3 separate regions of the Homo sapiens genome follow, and regions 1 and 3 are each linked to region 2. The links come from fine-mapping of genetic effects on gene expression. A gene starts in region 2. Each other region holds a variant in brackets. All regions are shown on one strand. Distances are between the middles of the regions.

The links. PIP is the estimated chance that this variant, and not a neighbour inherited with it, causes the effect. A credible set is the group of variants that fine-mapping cannot tell apart.
Region 1: its variant is the best candidate, but not a certain one, in a credible set for the expression of ATG4B in sigmoid colon (GTEx, PIP 0.82).
Region 3: its variant is the best candidate, but not a certain one, in a credible set for the expression of ATG4B in whole blood (INTERVAL, PIP 0.89).

Annotation. Positions count from the first base shown.
Region 1 is chr2:241,670,486-241,676,511 of GRCh38, forward strand. ATG4B (autophagy related 4B cysteine peptidase) reads left to right here. Exons shown (of 13, transcript NM_013325.5): 11 at 241-297; 12 at 827-920; 13 at 1,706-3,372. The coding sequence ends at 1,779. DTYMK (deoxythymidylate kinase) reads right to left here. Exons shown (of 5, transcript NM_012145.4): 5 at 5,262-5,752. The coding sequence ends at 5,642. Among named protein-coding and RNA genes, the nearest start is that of DTYMK, 13 kb to the right of the region's middle. The variant C/CGCT (reference allele first, on the strand shown) is at 2,972.
Region 2 is chr2:241,634,703-241,641,605 of GRCh38, forward strand. ATG4B (autophagy related 4B cysteine peptidase) reads left to right here and starts at 2,991. Exons shown (of 13, transcript NM_013325.5): 1 at 2,991-3,022. The coding sequence starts at 3,013. THAP4 (THAP domain containing 4) reads right to left here and starts at 2,456. Exons shown (of 6, transcript NM_015963.6): 1 at 2,239-2,456. The coding sequence starts at 2,315. RefSeq lists silencers at 1,979-2,118, 2,189-2,258, 2,289-2,638, 3,009-3,058, 3,079-3,268 and 1 more and enhancers at 2,612-3,539, 3,939-4,472.
Region 3 is chr2:241,662,995-241,669,897 of GRCh38, forward strand. ATG4B (autophagy related 4B cysteine peptidase) reads left to right here. Exons shown (of 13, transcript NM_013325.5): 8 at 3,651-3,844; 9 at 5,149-5,227; 10 at 5,546-5,691. Among named protein-coding and RNA genes, the nearest start is that of DTYMK, 20 kb to the right of the region's middle. RefSeq lists enhancers at 2,490-3,095, 5,190-5,691, 5,692-6,191. The variant T/A (reference allele first, on the strand shown) is at 3,029.

The DNA.
Region 1 (6,026 bases), 35 kb after region 2:
CGAATCAAGGCACAGCAACGCAGTGGAGCCTGAGGGGAGCCGGGCACTGGTGCAGGGGACCATGCACAGGGCACCCTCGGAGCTCCGTTCCTGGCCACAGGAGCCAAGGCAGGCTGGAATGTCCAGCACCTGCATGCTGGGGGCCTCTGCTGCGCCACTGGCAGTGGGAATGGAAGCCCCCACCTCTTAGCCGACTGCAGATGGGGGTGTCGTGTTCTGCTCATCGTCATTTCGTTTTAGGGGTTTTTCTGTAAGACTGAAGATGACTTCAATGATTGGTGCCAGCAAGTCAAAAAGGTTTGTAGCCGCCCCACACCCACAGCCGAGCTGAGCCACCCAGGGAGACAGGCAGTGGGGCGTGCAGGGGTCGAAGGCCTGCGTCCAGGTCTCAGGCAGCCTCACTGGGCCGTGGGGAGCTTTGTCCCGCCTGGCACAGCTATGTAGCTGAGCAGGGTGGGGCGTCCTGGATTGCCCATCTGGCAACACAGTTAACAACCCTGGGGACGGATGTTGCGTGTTGACTTTAGAATGGGATTTCCAGTGTCCTCATCCGTCTCCTGTTGAGATGGGGGTGGTGATGGGGTGCTGAGCTACGCCGGCCGAGTGCGTGTGGCCCACCCCCCTCTGCCGTGGTGGTCAGACTGTGCTGTGTGTTGATCACCACACTGGGTTCTCGTGTAGCCTTTAGTGTGGAGCTGCCTCTGTTTTCTCATCAGTGAGATGGGATGACAGGTTTGTCCGCTGGCTGTGGCCGGCTGGCCCCTTTCTCTTGGCCGCAGCAAGCACTGGGGTGAGGCTGCACCTAACGGCCATGTCTCACTAACAGCTGTCTCTGCTTGGAGGTGCCCTGCCCATGTTTGAGCTGGTGGAGCTGCAGCCTTCACATCTGGCCTGCCCCGACGTCCTGAACCTGTCCCTAGGTGAGAGCTGCCAAGTCCAGGTGGGGTCCCTCGGAGGTACGATCTGTGCCCTTGCTTCCCCAGTCCTGGCCCCCTTGGTTTTGACCATTAAGGTGTGTGTGAGCCTGAGCCGTGAGCACTTGGCAGTGGTTCGCCTGTGAGACCAGGTATGGAGTGGAGCGTCCCCTCCTCCAAGCTTGCGCCCAGCAGCCCAGGACCCACCTCGTCTTCCCCACCAGCGCTGCCTGCCCGGGCGCTGTGGAGCTGGGCGTGCTACCATGGAGTCCTCAGGGGTCTGGAGCAGACAGAACATGCAGGCTCTGTGGTGACGCAGTCCTGGGTGGGGGACTGGTTCACTTGGGCACCACTGGCCATGGGTGGCGTAGACCCCTCGGACCATGGCCAGCGTGCCGCAGGAGCCGGCCTGGGCTCGTGCAGTGAAGTGAGTGGCCGTGAGCGCGTCCTCCTCATCTCTGTCTCCCTGTGGGAAACTCTACAAACAAGGCAATGGCAATGGAACCACTCCTGATGACCACGAGGGTCAGACGCGGGACAGAGGCCCCTCAGGCCTGAGATTGTGCCGGCCGCCCCCTGCCCTCCTCACCCTGCCCTGCTCCTCTTCTCTGCTCCCTCCCCCCATATTCGCAGGTCTGCACAACCCCCGGACCTGTTCACACCCGCATGGGGACAGCTGTCTGTGGGCTGCAGAGCAGGCACTGCTCAGTCTGCCCCACGCCAAGGGCCCTTGACTCACACCCAGGTGGCCCACCCAAGATGCCTGATGCGCTATGTCCTGTTCCTTCTAGATTCTTCTGATGTAGAGCGACTGGAAAGATTCTTCGACTCAGAAGATGAAGACTTTGAAATCCTGTCCCTTTGAAAATCCTGGGGTCGGGGGTGGCACCTGTGAGAGCCTGGGGCTCCTGGTGCCGCTGCGTTTCATCCATCCCGCCCGCTCGCCTGCCGAGGGCTGCGCCCCGTGCTGCCTCCCCCCAGAGGGCCACCCGCTGTGCTCGTGGACTGAGGCTGCGCTGCCCGGGAGGCCTTACTGCTTGGTGTCAGACTGCCCAGCTCAGAGTGCCCGTCAGGGCCTGTGCATCCGCACGCGGAGCCGTCTGTTAGGAGCTTCCAGAGTGTTCTCTCGACACTGCCAGCCCCGTGTTAGCACCTGGGCCTCAGTCCCACTTGCTCCCAGGCGCCGGTTCTGTGGTTGGTTTGGAATTAAAGTCCTGTTTGAAGTTGTCAGACACAGACATGAATTTCTGGGCGCTCCCTGAGTCAGAGTCTCAGAAGACCTGTGCAGGCTGGCGTGAGAGGAGCGGCAGCCACACTGCGGCCCCACGCCCAAGGACTGGGCTGCTCTCGAGGGGGGCGCGCCCACCGCTGTGTCCTCTCTGCCCAGCCTGGCTTACCAAGGGCTACCTCAGTGGGAGATGAGGTTGGAGGAACGAAGGCGAGGTTCCTCCTTGCTTTGGGGAGAAAAGTATTCAGGAAGTGGGTGTGTGGGAAACCTGAAGATGGCGTGCACAGGACACAGCGTGGGCGGCCTGGGCAGAAGGGCGGCTGGCTGTCCTGGAGCTGCTGCTGGAGCCTGCCCTCAGAGTGTCCCTTTCCAGTGCTGTGGCATTCTGTGGCAGCTTCCCCAGGTGTGGTGACGGGGGGGGGGCGGGGCCTCCACCTGTGACAGCCAGGCTTGAGGGTGGACGGCGTGCCTCTCCCAGGAGCCTTCCCCATGTCCTTGCCTTGCTGAGAATTGCCCTCCCATGCCGCTGAGGTGTTAGGTGGTTTAGGGCCAAAAGGGGAAAACCACTTGAGTCTTGTGGTGTGTGGTGGGCAGACACCACAGGGTGGCATCACCTGGTGGCATTTCCAGAACCTCAGCCCCGATTCCAGCACCCACCACCGCCTGACCCTGTGTAACCTGCTGTCCCGGGTCCCAGAGTGCACTCTGCCCCGCTGCTCTGCTGCCTGTCCTGGGAAAGTATCTTTGCCCCACTAGGAAATGTAAACAGGAGGGCTTGGGGAGCGTGGGCACTTTTCTCATGAGCAGCTACTGCGGCGTTGGCAGGACT[C/CGCT]GCTGCTGCTGCTGCTGCTTGTGTAGGTCGGGGAGCCAGAGATCCCCGAGGACGCGCGCCGGACAGTCGGCACTGACCGGCCCACCTGGTAGCAGAGGACACCCCCAGCCCCCCAAGCATTGAAGACATAGTGTATTTCCTCGTATCCTTTCTCCCTTGGGTGTAGTTGGGGTGGGGAAGCAGGGAAGGCTGGTGCGATCTCCATTCCTTGGGCTCCACGTCCGAGTTCATGGTGCGCCGCTGTGCTGGGAGCTGCAGTGGTAATGTGTGGGACACCTTGACCAAAGGGGAGCTTTGTCTCGTGTGTTTTGAAAAAGGCTTAATGAAGAGAATGTTGTTCATTCTTAGTAGTATAGTTTGCAATTCTTAATGGCAAATAATAAGTTTCAGTAGAAAACAAACCTTGTGTCTATTTTTTCCTTAAGTTCTAATTGAATGTGAGTTCCAGAAAAAAAATAAGTGAATGTTTCAGCCCGTTCACACGTAAAGGATGTGGCTGCCTGCGTGGCGGGCTGTGGGGCCCTGAGCAGGTGTGTCCCCAGCCCTGGCAGGGGGCCTGTCCTGCCTGCAGCCTGGCTCTCTACCAGCCGTGGCATCAGCCACCTCATACAACCCTAGAAGGAAAAAGTGCAAGGAAAATAGGATTTTAGGAAAGTAAAATGGCGGTTCCCATCTTCAGCAGGAGGAAGTCACAGGAAGTGCCTGGAGTTGCAGGGTTTGCCTCGATTTGAATCATAGCAAAGCCTTCCCCAAGTGCGCAGTGACTGTCCTGGCCTGTGGGAGGCCATGCCTGGGGCACAGCAGGGGGCTTGGTGAGGACATTGCTCACTCTGGCCAGTGCATCCCTGTGGGCAGCCCTGGTATAGGTGTGAAGGGCCCAAAGCCAGATCGGAGGGGGCCCTGCTGGGTCCCCGGTGAGGTGGCTGAGGACTTGTGGCCTCTCCGATGCTCGTATTCGCTTCTTGTGGCTGCTCTAAAAGATGATCACATTCAGTGCCTGGAACAGCACAGCCTCTTCCAGACCCGGAGGGCAGACAGCCATATCGTGCTGTGGGCTCTAGGGGAGAACGTTGCTGTGCCTTTCTAGCTTCTGGATGCCAGAAACTGCTTGGCTCATGGCTCTTTCCTCCAACCACACAGCCAGCAACATGGCATCTCTCCAGCTTTTGCTGTTGGCATCTCATTTCCTGACTCGGACCGCCTGCCTCCCTGTTATGCGGACCCGTGATGGGCCAGGCATGGTGGCGCCAGCCTGTAATCCCAGCACTTTGGGAGGCTAAGGTGGATCACTTGAGCCCAGGAAAGAGAGGCTGCAGTGAGTCAAGATTGCACCACTGCACTCCAGCCTGGATGACAGAGTGAGACCCAGTCTTAAGACAACAAAAAAAGGCCCCTGTGATGACACTGGGCCCACCTGGATAGTCCAGGAAAGTCTCATCTGAAGGTTCCTCACCCAGGCCCATCCCACAGCCCCTGGCAATGCTTACCCAAGAGTGAAATCCTTTTGTTTTGCCTGGGTTTGTCTCTTGGCCACAGAAGGGTGCTGAGACCCACAGCTGCTGCCCCCACAGATGGGGGACCCTGCCTGCCTTCTACTCCAGCACACTGTATGCTGCTGTCTATGCGGAGTGTGCTCTGTGGGACAGATTCTGCCAGGAGTGTCAAATCATTCCTTCTAAGTGTCACTTAAAAGGGGATGCAATGGGCTCGGCATGGTGGCTCATGCCTGTACTCCCAGCACTTTGGGGAGGCCAAGGCAGGTAGATCACTTGAGCCCAGGAGTTTAAGACAAGCCTGGCTGGCAACATAGCGAAATCCTGTCTCCACAAAAAAATTACCCAGGCACAGTGAAGGCCTGTAGGCCTAGCTACTCAGGAGGCTGAAGTAGGAGGATCACCTGAGCCCAGGAGGTCAAGGCTGCAGTGAGCCACGATCGTGCCACTGCACTCCAGCCTGGGCGACAGTGAGACCCTGTTTCCAAAAAAATAAAAAATAAAGGATAGGATGAGAAGTTAAGCTCCAGGGTTGCAATGAAAATAGCAGAGTTAACTTAGGTGAGTTCAGGACGTAAGCTGTGATGACACTCGGATATAGCCTGGCTGGACCCAGCGAGCCCAGGGCATGGCTGCAACTGTTCAGACCCACAGTGGGACTCCCTCAACTAGGCAGGAACCAGGGTCCAGGAAGGCCCTACTGGGCCCAATGAAGGCTCTTCTCTCCTGGGATGGAGGTTCCCATTCAAAGCCAGCTCCGTCCTCAGTCTAAGAAAAGTGAAGCGTTCCACAAACAATTTTCAGGTCGTTTTTTACTAGTGTCTGGAAGACATTTAGGAGAATTCCAACTGATTACCATTTACAGTGATCACAATGAAACTGCTCAGAGTTATCACTGAACTTCAGTAAGAAAATACAACAGAGTGCCATCAGGACAGGGGAGAGGGCAGGAGACTGCTCCATCGCTCTGCTCATGTCCACACTGCCAAGGTCCCCACCACGGGGGTCCCCAGTGCACCCCAGCTCCGGGGCAGAAGAGGCAGCCTGCAGATCTCTGCTGCCGGGAAAGAGCTCCTGAAGTTGTGGGGTCTGGACTCTGCTGGGGACGGGGCCTTCCGCGAGTCTCCCACCTCTCGGGGGACTGCAGGGAGAGGCGTCTCCAGTGGGCAGCCTTGGGTCACTTCCATAGCTCCCCCAGCGGCTTCTCTGTGGCAGTGCGGATGGCGTCCTCAGAGAGCACGCGGATGTCCTCATGGACAGCTTCGATGCTTTTGGAAGCATCCACCATCTGTTCCCACCGGGGTTTCAGGAGAAAAAGAGGCTCATCAGCACGTTCCAGGCTGGTCACGGGAGCCCACGCCTGTAATCCCAGCACTTTGGGAGGCCCACGAGGGAGGACTGCTTGTACCCAGGAGTTCAAGACCAGCCTGGGCTACACAGGGACACCCCGTCTCTACAAAAAATGTGGCACCACTCTACTCCAGCCTGGGTGACACAGTAACACCCTGTTTCAAAACAACACCATGTTTCGTTCTGTCCTCTGTGCTCGTGGGGATTTCACA
Region 2 (6,903 bases):
TTCCAGTTACTTGGGAGCCTGAGGCTTGAGGGTTCTTTGAGCCCAGAAATTCGAAGTTACAGTGAGCTAAGACTGCACCACTGCTCCCCATCCTGGGGAACAGAGTGAAACCCGGTCTTCTCCCCTCAAAAAAAATCAACCAACTCAGATGATCCTTGAGGACATTATACTGAATGAAATAGGGCAGGTGCAAAAAAACAAACACTGCATGATACCACTCACATGAGGTACTCAGAGTAATCAAATTCATAGAGACAGGAGAATGCGGGTTCCCAGAGCCTAGGGAGAGGAGGACTGGGGTATTAATGTTTAATGAGTCCAGAGATTCCGCTTTACAAAATAAAAATAATTCTGGAGGTGGATGGTAGTGACAGCTGCACAACAACGTGAATGTATTTGTTGCCATGAATTGTACACTGAAAAAGCGGTAGGAAAGGCTGGGAGCCGTGGCTCATGCCTGTGATCCCAGCTACTCTGGAGGCTGAGATGGGAGGACCACTTGGGTCCAGGAGGCTGAGGCTGCAGTGAGCTACGGTCATACCATTGCACTCCAGCCTGGGTGACAGAGTGGGACTCTGTCTCCAAAAAAAGTTAGGATGGTAAATTTCATGTTACATGTATTATACCATAATTTAAAAATGGTGAGAAAAAAGCAACCAGCGCAGGAAGATACTGAATAGGATGTTTAGTCATTTCTTTATTACCTAATAAAGATCCTTCATAACCATTTCTTCATTAAGGCAAACTCTGTGTTTAAGAACATAGGCCTGGGCCGGGCGGGGTGGCTTATGCCTGTAATCCCAGCACTTTGGGAGGCCGAGGCGGGTGGATCACTTGAGGTCAGGACTTTGAGGCCAGAGTTCGAGACCAGCCTGGCCAATATGGTGAAACCCTGTCTCTACTAAAAATACAAAAAAATTAGACAGGCGTGGTGGCGCTTGCCTGTAATCCCAGCTACTTGGGAGGCTGAAGCAGGAGAATAGCTTGAACCCAGGAGCGGGGGTTGCAGTGAGCCGAGATCGCACCAATGCACTCCAGCCTGGGCGACAGAGGGAGACTCCTTCTCAAAAAAAAGAGAAAAAAAGAAAAAAAAACCAGGCCCTAATGTGCACATAAGGGACAGGGTGGTCAGTTCTAACTGCTATTTGCTCCACCTGAGGCCAGTGTGGACCAGGACAAATCCTAACAGGATGGACTGGGCCGTTCTAAGCAACAGGACCTTCTAACCTCCTTTCTGAACACTGTGAGGCCAACTGCAAAGGTACCCCCCCACCCCCAATTCCGATGTCCTTTCCTCCCATACCATGTTAGACCGTTGCAACACGTTGCCTCGTTTTCAAAAAACAATAACAAAACTTCTAGGACACAAGCTCTGAAGGAAATTGTCAAGAAAGTGCGCTGGCTGACTTGTGAAATAATCTAATGTTACTAATTCTTATAATACATTGTAATGATTTAAGACTTACAGCAAACTACTGTGAACTTTCAATAACCCTATAAATAACACGTGCCATTCCCGTCTTTAAAACTTAAATAACACCATGCAACATAAAACAGAAACATCTCCAAAGTGGTTTTTAAAGTCTGTTCGCGGTTCTGGTGCCTCCCGCGTGTAATCCGCAGAAATCTCACTGAAATAGGCTGAACTCACAAGGCCTTAGAGGGGTTTGGGCCCTGCCGCGGGGGCCCACGTGGGAAGCGGCCGAGAGCCCCGGGCCAGGCTCTAAGGGAGCGCAGGAGGATGCCGTCCCCAGCCGGCCGTCCCGTAGACTCTCCGCGCGTACCCGCGTCCTGGGCTCGGGGGCCCAGTCCCGGAAAGCCCTCTCGGGGGCTGTCAGCTACGGAGGCGCAGGTCGCGTCTGCCCGGTCGCTCCTGCTCGCAGACATCCAGGCCGACGGCCCGCGCGGTCCGGAGAGTCAGCAGTCGCGGCCGAGCAGGACAATCGGCCCAGGACCTGCGCTTCCAGAGCGTGCGGCTTCTGAAGCCTAGGCGCCGGCCGGATCGATCGCGCGCAGGGCGGACCCAGGCGGCCGGGGTGGGGGCGGCTGCGCTGCCCGAGGCGCCCGGCCCAGAGACGGCGGCCGGGCCAAGGTCACACAGCGCCCACGCCCGCTCCCCCGCGCCCCGGCCGCCGAGGCCCGGCGCCCCCGCCCCCCGCGTTCGGGCCGGCCGCGGGGCCTCAGTTTCCCCGCAGGGCCGGGTCGGGGCGGGGGCGTGGCGGCCCGGGGCCCGCGTACCTGTGGAAGGAGACGGCGCGCTTCTCGCCCTTTCCCTGCCGGTTGGAGCAGTTCACGGCCGCACAGCAGATCACCATCGCGGGCCTTGGCCCAGCCGCGCAGCCAGGCCCCGGCCCTAGCCGCCCGCCCGCCCGCGGACCGCCCCGAGGGAGGGAGCGCGGCGGCGACACGGCTCGGGACGTGGGCCGGCCCGCGGCGTCCGCGCCGTACGGCAAGATGGAGGCGCAGGCGCCCGCAGCGGGCCCGCCCCCGCCCCAGCCCCCGCCCGCGTCCTCGCCAGCCGCGGGTTCGGGCGTCTTCGGACCAGCGGGGCGCCGCAGGCCCCTCGCAGCGTCCGTCGGCAGGCGGGCAGACGGGCGGGGGAGTCGCCCCGGCGGGGCAAGTCCGTACCGCGACATGGGCGCGCCGAGCACGTCCGTACCGCAAGATGGCTGCTCGGACGGGGACAGAGCTCGCCTCTGCCGCCTCGACAACTGCTCCTGGGTCCTCTAAGAGGAGGAAGCGCCACCCATGGCACACAGTGTCCCGTCGGACAGCAGAACCAGCCGTCGTCCCACGACACGACCCCATGCCGCCCGCAGGGCGCCCCGGGGCTCGCGTCGGCCCGGCCGTACGCCAAAATGGCGGCTCCCGCGTATTTCCGCTCGCGCGCCGTATCGTCTTCGCCGCCTGCGCCGGCACACCTATTGGCCCCCGCGGCGTCCCGTCGCCGCGTCGCGTTGCTGGCCCGTCGGAGCGACGCCGCTCGGGTCAGTCGGCGGCCGGACTGGGAAGATGGACGCAGGTGAGGAGTTGCCGGGGGTCGGTCTTTCCGCAGGAGGTGCTCGCCTTATCATTGGCCTCCCCTGCTCGGGTCGGGCTGCCGCGACTCGCCTCGGGGCACGCCGGTGCGGGCCAGGCTGGGCCGGGGCGGCGGGCGCTGCGGGAGCGCGGGGCGGTGTTGGTGGGTGGTGGGCGGTGGGAGCGGGAGGGGGACGGCGGCGCACTGCGCCGCGGAACCCGCCGTCGGTTGCGCTGGAGCTTCTGCTTTTCCGGTCCCGTCCGGAGCGCTCCGGAGGTTGTGGCTGCACAGGCCCTTGCGCCAGGTCGGCCGTGGAGGGCGGCGGAGCCTGCCGGGCGGGGAGAGGCGCGGCGGCGAACGGGGCGGCCGCGGTCCGGGCCGGGGACGCGAGCGGCGGGCGAAAGCGTAGCCTTTCCGCAGCTGAGCGTGAAGGGATGGAAGCTCTTTAACTTTTATGAAGTTATTGGTAGGTTGGAGGAGAGAAACGTGACGTGTTCATCACAGTATACGTATCTTTTTTGTTTTTGTCTTCAATTTAGTAACCAGTAGATTCTCCAAGCTGCTTTTCCGTGACGAGAAAGAGAAACAGTGAATTTGTATCATCGGGTCTTAGTTTCTTGGGGTCCTAAGAGAGAGAGAAAGAGAAGGAGTGTGTGTGTGTGTGTATAGGGAGTGTTGGTTTTTTTCCTATCCTTTCATGCTTCCGCTCCATTTTTGCTAGCAAGATTATTTTAAGTCAGCGCCAAACCCATCGCTAGCCCAGTAGCCCTAGAAATATTTTTACACAGAAGTTTTAGCTCATTCATTCTTTGTGGGAACTGATTTGCCTTTTACCAAGTATCCCCCATCTGTAAAGAAAGATTTTCATCTGGTTTAATTCTGTCATTCTGAATGGGATTGTTTTTACTTTTTATTTTTCTGGTAGCTACAACATAAATTTATTAAGATCTGAGTTGGAAAACTGTAATGTGTATTGCCAATATCTATTAAAATGATTTGTAGCAGCTCACCACTTAAATGTGGTAGGTGGCTGGAGGAAACAGGAGCCCTGACTCCCTAAGGAGCATGTTGACCAGGTGTATATCTTGTGAAGTTTGTCTTTTAGAATAACCGTCATTCACGGTTGAACTATTTGCAGCTGTGTACTATTTGTTGTTTACTATTTTACAACTGTTGTATTATATCTTTTTAGGTGTTATTGTTTGTGATGCAGGATTTTTCTCAGCCACTCTGGCAGCCAGAGACCTCCGGCTGGCGAGGCCCCTGCCCAGGCCTTGCTTGGGTCCAGGCTCGCCGCAGGAGATACCCCATCTACTTGGTCCACCGGTGGGCACCTGGTTTGCACTATGGCACGGATACCATGGCCACCATGACTGTATGCTCAGCCCCTGGCGGGAGTGGGTGTGTGGGTGAGTGAGTGCCGGGTCCCGCCAGCTGTTTCAAGCGCAGGCACCAGAGTGGGCTCTGCAGAGCTTACAGCTAGACATGTGGCAAGCAACTCCCACGGCGGACTCCAGCGTCCAGACAAAGGGACAGTGGATTCTGGTGTCCAGACAAGGGGAAGGTAGTGGCGCCCAAGCAGGGGTGCTTACAACCCTGAAGCCCAAGAGGGGGTGTTGCAGAGTGTCAGCAGCCCTGTTACTCCCATTGCCCTGCTCCAGGCTATAGCTCTGGGGCTGGCTCCGTCCCCGCTGCTTCCCTTTGCTGCCTCCTGTCACGTGGGGTGTCACAGTGGGTGGCTGCCCTTTGCCGGCAGAGGGCCCAGGGCCACAGTGTTACAGCCTTCTTTGTACTTGCATTCATTGGGTCCCTAGTTCTTGTCCCACGTCCAAGAAGAATGAGACTACACTTAACACTGACAATCGAAGGGTGAGGAGGGTGGAGAATAGTTTTATTGAGTGATGAAACACCCCTCAGCAGAGAGGGGACTCAAGGGTGGTCTTCCACCCAAAGTCGGGTGGTCTCCCTTGGTGTGGCTGGGTCCAGGGCTTTTATAGGCTCAGAATGGGGAGTGTGTGCTGATTTGTCTGTGAGTATGCAAAAAAGGTTAAAACAAAGTCACTACTCAAAGGTGGGCACAACAGTGTAATAAACCAATTAGAGAAAAGTAGGTATATGTAAAATAGGTGAAGGGTGGGGATTAATTAGAGGAAAGCGCACCAAACAGGAAGAGAGGTTCGCAATCCAGTCTGTGGATTTATCCGAGACTCGTCGCTTGGCTTTCAGGCTTTAAACTGTGGCTTGAAGGTTGGGTTTCACTGGTGACCCACCCCTCTCTGCCTAGGATTTGTCTGCCTCCTGCCTCTATCATTTCGATACCTTGAGGCTGGAGTATCATATGAGAGACTTGGCTAAGGTCAAAAACACGGTTCAGTGTCGATCATATGACCTAAAATGTGAAAATCATCATGTTCAAGTTGGGAGAACAGTTATGTTGTTACATGGCGATACTTTATTTTATCTTTTATTTTCCCTTGACAACTGTGTTGACATGGTGATACTTTAATAGGACACTGGATGTTGCTGCATGTGGGATCAGAGTAGAAAAGGTGTTTGCATTTAAAGGTCTCTGTTTATGCTGATAAAAACGTATATGATGTTTGTAGGATATCATGGGGAATTTTCCTTCTGACTTGATGCTGTATTTCCTTTCAGAGATGATTAATGATCTGCCCTCCTTTGATCTCTAGAGTTCTTGAAGATTCTGCCTTCCTTGACCATGTGTAATACAGTTTCTGTTCTGATAGTCATTAATTCAATACACTGTTTGTTACTGACTGTCAGATATGTGTTAGGCATTGTTCTAGACACTAGGACTAGAGAAGTAACAACATAGATGAAAACCATTGCCCTGGGGTAGCTAACGTTCTAGACATGAGACCAGCATTAGCAGCGAAGTGCGTGGCTCCTGGGGGATGGTGATTTGGGCCAAGGATGAGGAGGATTGGAATTGTAGCCAGGATGGCCAGGAAGGGTCTCACTCTGAAGGTTTAAGTTTTGACGAAGACTTAAAGCAGTGTAGGAGGAAGGGCAGGTAGCAAGAGCCTGGTGTGGCTCAGGTGCAGCGGGTGGCGGTGGGAGAAGCAGGAGCTGAGGATAGAAAGGTGACTTAGGCTCAGTGTAGTGGGGCCTTGCCAGCTCATAGTGAGGACTCGGTGTTTATTCTGAACAGGATGGCAGCTCATAGTGAGGACTCAGTGTTTATTCTGAACAGGATGGCAGCCGTTTGGAAGGTTTCATTCTAGAGGAGGAGTCACATGATAGACTGTGTTCAACAGGCTTGCTCTGGCATCTCTTTTGAGAATGTACTGCAGAGGGGCAAGGGCAGAGGCAGCGAGACCAGCTAAGAGACTGTTGAACAAGCCAGCAAGGAGATGCCAGTGGATTAGCTCAGGGTGGGTAAGAGGTTGACTTCTGCATGTGTTTTGGAGGTTGAGACAATAGAATTTGTTTGTAGATTGGAAGTTGGGAGAGGGATGGGTAGAGAGGGAGGAGTTAAAGATGGCCCCATAGTGTATGGCCTGAGCTAAGCAACTCAGATGGAGGGGGGCGGGCGTGGTGGCTCACGCCTGTAATCCCAGCACTTTGAGAGGCCGAGGTGGGCGGATCACAAGGTCAGGAGATCGAGACCATCCTGGCTAACACGGTGAAACCCCGTCGCTACTAAAAATACAAAAAATTAGCCGGGCATAGTGGCGGGCGCCTGTGATCCCAGCTACGCAGGAGGCTGAGGCAGGAGAATGGCGTGAACCCGGGAGGCGGAGCTTGCAGTGAGCCAAGACTGCGCCACTGCACTCCAGCCTGGGCGACAGAGCGAGACTCTGTCTCAAAAAAAAAAAAAAAAAGAAACTCAGATGGGGAAGACTTGGGGAGGTCCTGTCTGG
Region 3 (6,903 bases), 28 kb after region 2:
GGAGGCCAAGGTGGGTAGATCACATGAGGTCAGGAGTTAAAGACCAGCCTGGTCAACATCGTAAAACCCCATGTCTACTAAAAAAAAAGTTAGCTGGGCATGGTGGCACGCCCTCGTAATCCCAGCTGCTCGGGAAGCTGAGGCACGAGAATTGCTTGAACCTGGGAGGCAGAGGCTACAGTGAGCTGAGATCATGCCACTGCACTCCAGCCTGTGTGACACAGTAAGACTGTGTCTCAAAAAACCAAAACAACAAAAAATAATAAAAATATATAGAAAACAGAATAATTAACAGATTAGCTATGGAAAGATCAAAGCTACAGGGGACCCAGATAACACAACAGGCAGAGTTTAGTAGATACGTGTCAAACCCTAGATTGTGACAGCAGAGTGTGCCTGGGAATTTCTATGAAACTAATGCGGAATAAAATGAAAAAAGGACAAAACCCTGCTGCCTGGAAATGTGAAACCTCAAAAAAGTCAAGTGTAGAGACCGTAACTATGTATCTGAACCTGATGTGTACAGAACTCAGAAGAAAACCTGTGTATCTTCAGTACTAGTATATGGGTTCTTTACAAAGTGAAAATTAATGAAATAAGCATACAACTCAAGAATTCGGAAAAAGCAAAATTAACTGAAGAAACCAAAGAATAATATTAAAGACAAATACAGAAATTAATGATTTAAAGGAAGAAATGTATTAGGCCAGGTGTAGTGGCTCATGTTTGTAATCCCAGCACTTTGTGAGGCTGAGGCAGGAGGATTGCTTAAAGCCAGGAATTCAAGACCAGCCTGGGCAACATAGCCAGACGTCTATTTTTTTTTTTTTTTTGGAACAGTTCTGCTCTGTCGCCAGGCTGGAGTGCAGTGGTGGCACGATCTTGGCTCACTGCAATTTCCGCTGCCCAGGTTCAAGTGATTCCCCTGCCTCAGCCTCCTGAGTAGCTGAGACTACAGGTGCATGCCACCACGCCTGGCTAATTTTTTGTATTTTAGTGGAGATGGGGTTTCACCATATTTCACCATGTTGGCCAGGATGGTCTTGATCTCCTGACCTCATGATCTGCCCACCTTGGCCTCCCAGAGTGCTGGGATTACAGGCGTGAGCCACCGTGCCTGGACCTCATTCTATAAAATATTTTAAAAATAAATTTTAAAATTAAATTTATTAGAACTAACACATACTAGAACTGGCTCTTTGAAGCAATAACATATATGTTTTAAAAAAATCAAAGTTAAAATCCCTCCCTTGGCTAAGCACTGTGGCTCCCGCCTGTAATCCTAGCACTTTGGGAGGTGGAGGCAGGCAGATTGCTTGAGTCCAGGAGTTTGAGACCAGCCGCCTAGGTAACATGGTAAAACCTCATCTCTACAAAAAAACAAAACAAAAAAACTAGCCGGACATGGGGGCATGTACCTGTAGTCCCACCTACTCGGGAGTCTGAGGTGGGAGGATCCCATGAGCCTGGGAGGTTGAGGCTGCAGTGAGACATGATTGCACCACTTCACTCCAGCCTGGGTGACACAGTAAGACCCTGTCTCAAAAACCAAACAGAAACCCAAACAACTCCCTTAAGGCTGGGCGTGGTAGCTCCTACCCATAATCGCACCTCTCAGGGAGGCTGAGTTGGAGGATTGCTTGAGACCAACCTGGACAACTCCCTCTCTATAAGAAATAGAAAAATGAGGCCAGGCACATGGCTCATGTCTGTAATCTCAGCACTTCGGGAGGCTGAGGTGAGCAGATCACTTGAGGTCAGGAGTTCGAGACCAGCCCGGCCAATGTGGCAAAACCCCGTCTCTACTAAAAATACAAAAATTAGCTGGGCGTGGTGACACACACCTGTAATCCCAGCTACTGGGGAGGCTGAGGCAGGAGAATTGCTTGAGCCCAGAAGGCGGAGGTTGCAGTGAACCGAGATTATGCCACTGCACTCCAGCCTGGACAACAGAGAATCGGCTTCAAAAAAGAAAAGTCAGGGGGCACAGTGGCCCACACCTGTTGTTCCAGCTACTCGGGAGGCTGAGGCGGGAGGATTGCTTAAGTGCAGGTGTTTGAGGCTGCAGTGAGCTGTGGTTGCACCACTGCACTGCAGCCTGGGTGACAGAGTGAGACCCCGTCTCTAAAAGAAATTTAAAAAGTTCTGTCTCAGAATCCTTGTTTTCCAGCTGTCTGTTTTGAGAAATTTGAGTCCTACAAAAAAGTTCAGTGAGTCATGGCCACAAACCCTCCACCTAGATCCACCAATTGTGTTTTGACACGCTTGGTTTTTATGAGCAAGCCTCCTACGAATGAGAGTGTTCCTGAGAGCCACACAGCCTCATCACCACAAAAGAGGTGACGCCACGACTCACCAGGGTCCGTCTTGGCCCCTTGCTGTCCAGGGAACAACCCGTGCCGCTGATTTGTGTTCCTGGTTGAGGGTCCGGTGCTGTGTGTATATAGTTGTGATGTCTTTCTAGTCTTTAATTGAGAAGGTTCTGCCTCTTTGTTGTGGTTGTTGCTGCTTTGTGGCATTTTTGACGAGTTCAGGTCAGCTGACCATCCCACACGCTGGATTTGTCTGCTTCCTCACAGTTGGGCTTGGGTTGAGCCTGTGGCTGAGAGTAGCCTCTGGGTGGCAGTGTCCTCTGCTCTCCCATCCGGGGCCTGCAGTGGGACACTATGTCAGATCCCCGGAGATGGTGTCTTTTTTCCTTTGTAATTAATGAATAATCCAGTGGTGACACTGAGCATGTCCTGGTGAGCTGTGTGACTCCTGCCTGATAATGGTGGTTTTTCTAGCCTGTCCTTTCCTTTCACGTTTATTGGTTGGCGTTCTGAGAAGAGCCGCCTTTTCTCCCATCACTTAGTGTGCAGTGTGCTACCTGTCACCTGTCTGTCACCTGTCAGTCACTGTCACCTGTCACTGTCACTGTCACCTGTCACTGTCCATCTTTTTGATGCTTGACGGTTCCACCTTTGGCCGGTGGCCACCTCAGTCTGGTGGTGTCTTTTGCCGTGTTCTGGCGTTTTTCGTTTATGTT[T/A]TGAGCCCTCCCTTATGTTCTGGGTTAAGCAGATGCTGCAGGCACCTCTGAACATTCCCTGCCTGGCCCTGGAATCAGCCTGGCTCCTCTGAGTGGGGAGTGGTGTTGAGAAACCTCGATCTAGACGCCGGGCATGCTCCATGCTCCCGGAGTGTCTTCTCCCATCACCGCACCCTCCGGTTGATGTGTCCTCCGGACCATTGACTCACGGGTGTGTGTAGGCAGAAGGGGTGGAAGCGAGGAAAGGCGTTGCTGAGGAGGCCCGGAGGGAGCGGGTTCTGGCTGTGCTGGCACTAGCCAGGCTGGCAGGCTGCGTGGGTACTTCTGTGATTTTCCTCTCAAGTGCACGTGGCTTTTTCTTGCACTGTTTCGTGTGTGTGCTTTATTTCACAATAAAACTCTTGAATTAAGTATGCATAGAAACTATTTCTTTTTTCTCTGGGTGGCAAGATTATGAAAAAATTTTCTTACGCTTTTCTATATTTTCCAAGTTTGAATTTCACTGTAAGCACCTGGCTTTGTACCGCCCTTTTTCTGTTACACAGTCATCATTTGCTTGCTTGTTGTGGGAGCACTTTTGCACAGGTCTGCTTGGTTAGTGAAAGCATGTCTCCCTTTCTAGGAAGGTTGTGCAGGACCAGCGTTCCCTGTGCAGGCGCCACTGCGTTTCCTGCAGATTCCGACCGGCACTGCAACGGATTCCCTGCCGGAGCTGAGGTCACCAACAGGCCGTCGCCATGGAGACCCCTGGTACTTCTCATTCCCCTGCGCCTGGGGCTCACGGACATCAACGAGGCCTACGTGGAGACGCTGAAGGTGGGTCCTGCCGTGCGGCGCTTGCCCTGAGTCCCCGTCCCCTTCTCCCAGTTCTTAGTCACTTTCAGCGCATCGTCGTCACGTGGCCATTTGTGCAGCCGGCTCTCGGGGGAGGGGTAAACAACCCTGGTTTACACCGTTGCCCAAGGGGTGAGTGGGCGTGAGGCACGTCCATCAGTAGGCACGTGCTGCTTTCGTTCTGCAAGTGTCAAGGCGAGTGTCGAGGATGAAAGCATGAGGCGCTTGCAGGGGGTCCTTGGAACCAGGTGCCACTCCTCGGCCTGACGGGGAGCCCCGCCCCCTCCCGGGTCTCCACTGTGCCCCAGGCATGCCCACCCCACTCCCCCACAGCCCTCTTGGCCTGAGGTCCCTTCGGAGGGTGGGTTGGCCTGTGAGGAAGGGACGTGTGGGCAGGGCCTGGGGATGGGCAGGGCTGTGTGAGGAGCTCCAGCCACAGGCTCCCCCATGTCATGAAAGCAAAAGGGGGCGGGGAGCGGTGGCTCATGACTGTAATCCCAGCACTTTGGGAGGGCAAAGCGGGCAGATCACGAGGTCAGGAGTCTGAGACCAGCCTGGCCAACATGGTGAAACCCTGTCTCTACTAAAAATATAAAAATTAGCCGGGCATGGTGGTGCGCGCCTGTAGTCCCAGCTACACAGGAGGCTGAGGCAGGAGAATCTCTTGAACCCAGGAGGCGGAGCTTGCAGTGACCCGAGATCATGCCATTGCACTCCATCCTGGGTGACAGAGTGAGACTCCATCTCAAATAAAAAAAAAAAAAAAGCAAGCAGAAGGGAAAACCATCCTTTCTTCAGGTAACTCAAATTTTAGACCAAGGAGTCACATTTGTATGGAACTGAAATGTGGCTTCCTGTTAAAATTATTCAGTTGTCTGAACTTGGCCCCTCCGTCCAGCCTTCTGCCCATCCTGTGGGGTCTCAGCTGCCCCCACACATAGGCCCCGTCTCCATCGCTTCTGCCCTGTCAGGTCAAAGCACTCAGCAGGGCCACCTCCCGCACCCCTGCTCACATCTCCTGCCAGGCCCCCTCACTCCCGGCCTCCCCAAAGCCCACCTCTGACATGAAGCTTCCCTGAGCTGAGCCTGCAGATTGGGTTTCTTGTGCCTGTGGGATGTCCTGTGGTCTTTCCTGGACAGTAAGCTCTTTGGTACCATGTCCCCTCCTGTCCCCTCTTGTGTCACCCAGTTGGGCCTCAGCAGGCCCTTGGGCCCCCTATGGCAGTGGGTGGGGGGACCGTCTGCTCCCACCTGGGACCTGTGCTCAGTCCCCCGCCCCTCCACAGCACTGCTTCATGATGCCCCAGTCCCTGGGCGTCATCGGAGGGAAGCCCAACAGCGCCCACTACTTCATCGGCTACGTTGGTGAGTCCAGGGTTCCCACCGTGTCCCTGTGGGCCTGGGCCTTTTAAGGGCATTCCATGAGCAGGTACCACACCCCAGGTGACCACTTGAGGCCACTGGTGGAAAAGCAGCATGCCCTGGGGTTCATTTTCAGCCTGGTCGCGGGCGGCCTCCTGTGTGCCCCTTTCCCTGATGGTCTGGTGCCCTCGGCTCCCTCCCCACCTCCTGCCCACTGCTTCTCAGTGTGATGTGGGTGCAGTGGGTCTGAAATGCGGCCTCCTCTGTCCCTTTCCTCTGCCGGCTCGGCCACCCACCTGCCCACCTGCCTCATCCTCCCAGGTGAGGAGCTCATCTACCTGGACCCCCACACCACGCAGCCAGCCGTGGAGCCCACTGATGGCTGCTTCATCCCGGACGAGAGCTTCCACTGCCAGCACCCGCCGTGCCGCATGAGCATCGCGGAGCTTGACCCGTCCATCGCTGTGGTACGTGGCGGCCACCTGAGCACACAGGCATTTGGTGCTGAATGCTGTTTGGGAATGACGAGGAAAACTTTCGGATTTTTGCGTTTTTTTTTTCAGCATGTTGGGATAAGTACTGTGTTCACGTGGTTGGGAATCTGAAGGGTATAAGAGCCGGAACTGTGTCCTTGCACCCTCACGTCCCTCCCCCAGGCACCACCTCCTGTGCAGCCTTCATGGCCTTCGAGTGGCCCAGAGAGCGTGTGTCTGGATGTGAGCGTGTGTGGGCGCGTGCTGAGTGTGCATGGATGAGTGTGAGCCATGGTGAGTGTGTCCCCCTCACACCTACATTTAAACACACGGGCGGCCCCTCCACCCACCCCTGCACCACCTTCGTCACACCCACATTTAAACACGGGCGGCCCCTCCACCCACCCACTCCTGCACCACCTTTTGTTTTCCGGAGGCTCTGACTTGACCTCTCTGGGGGATTTCCTAAGAAGGAGCTTCCCTGTTTTTCCATTTTGATTACCTAGTTGTGATTTTTGGTGTGTGATTTATGCAGACCTGCCTGCCCTCAAATATATTTGATGGGGAAAGAGGCCAAAAAACCCCCCTAGAAATCATGAATGACGGTGACATGCTCAGGGAAGCAGTTAACCGAATCGGGGGCTCTGTTGTGGATGCTCCGCCCCATTTAGGAGGAAGAAGGCAGATCTGGGCCTGAAATGGGACGGTCTCTGAGCTGTGGCGCAGCCCCAGAGTGCACACCACGCTCCATGCACCTCCTGGGCAGGGTGGCAGTAGTGGGGAACATGGGCTGGAGCTCTGTGGCTCACACTTTTTGTTTGTTTGTTTGTTTTTGAGACGGAGTCTCACTCTGTCGCCCAGGCTGGAGTGCAGTGGCACGATCTCGGCTCACTGCAAGCTCCGCCTCCCAGGTTCACGCCATTCTCCTGCCTCAGCCTCTGGATTAGCTGGGACTACAGGCACCCGCCACCACGCCTGGCTAATTTTCTGTATTTTTAATAGAGACGGGTTTTCACTGTGTTAGCCAGGATGGTCTTGATCTCCTGACCTCATGATCCACCCACCTCGGCCTCCCAAAGTGCTGGGATTACAGGCGTGAGCCACTGCGCGCAGCCTGGCGCACACTTCTTACCAGAACCTAGTCACGAATTCCTCGTCGAACTAGAATTAGGTATGTTTGTTACTGTAAACGCAGCTTGGTGGCTT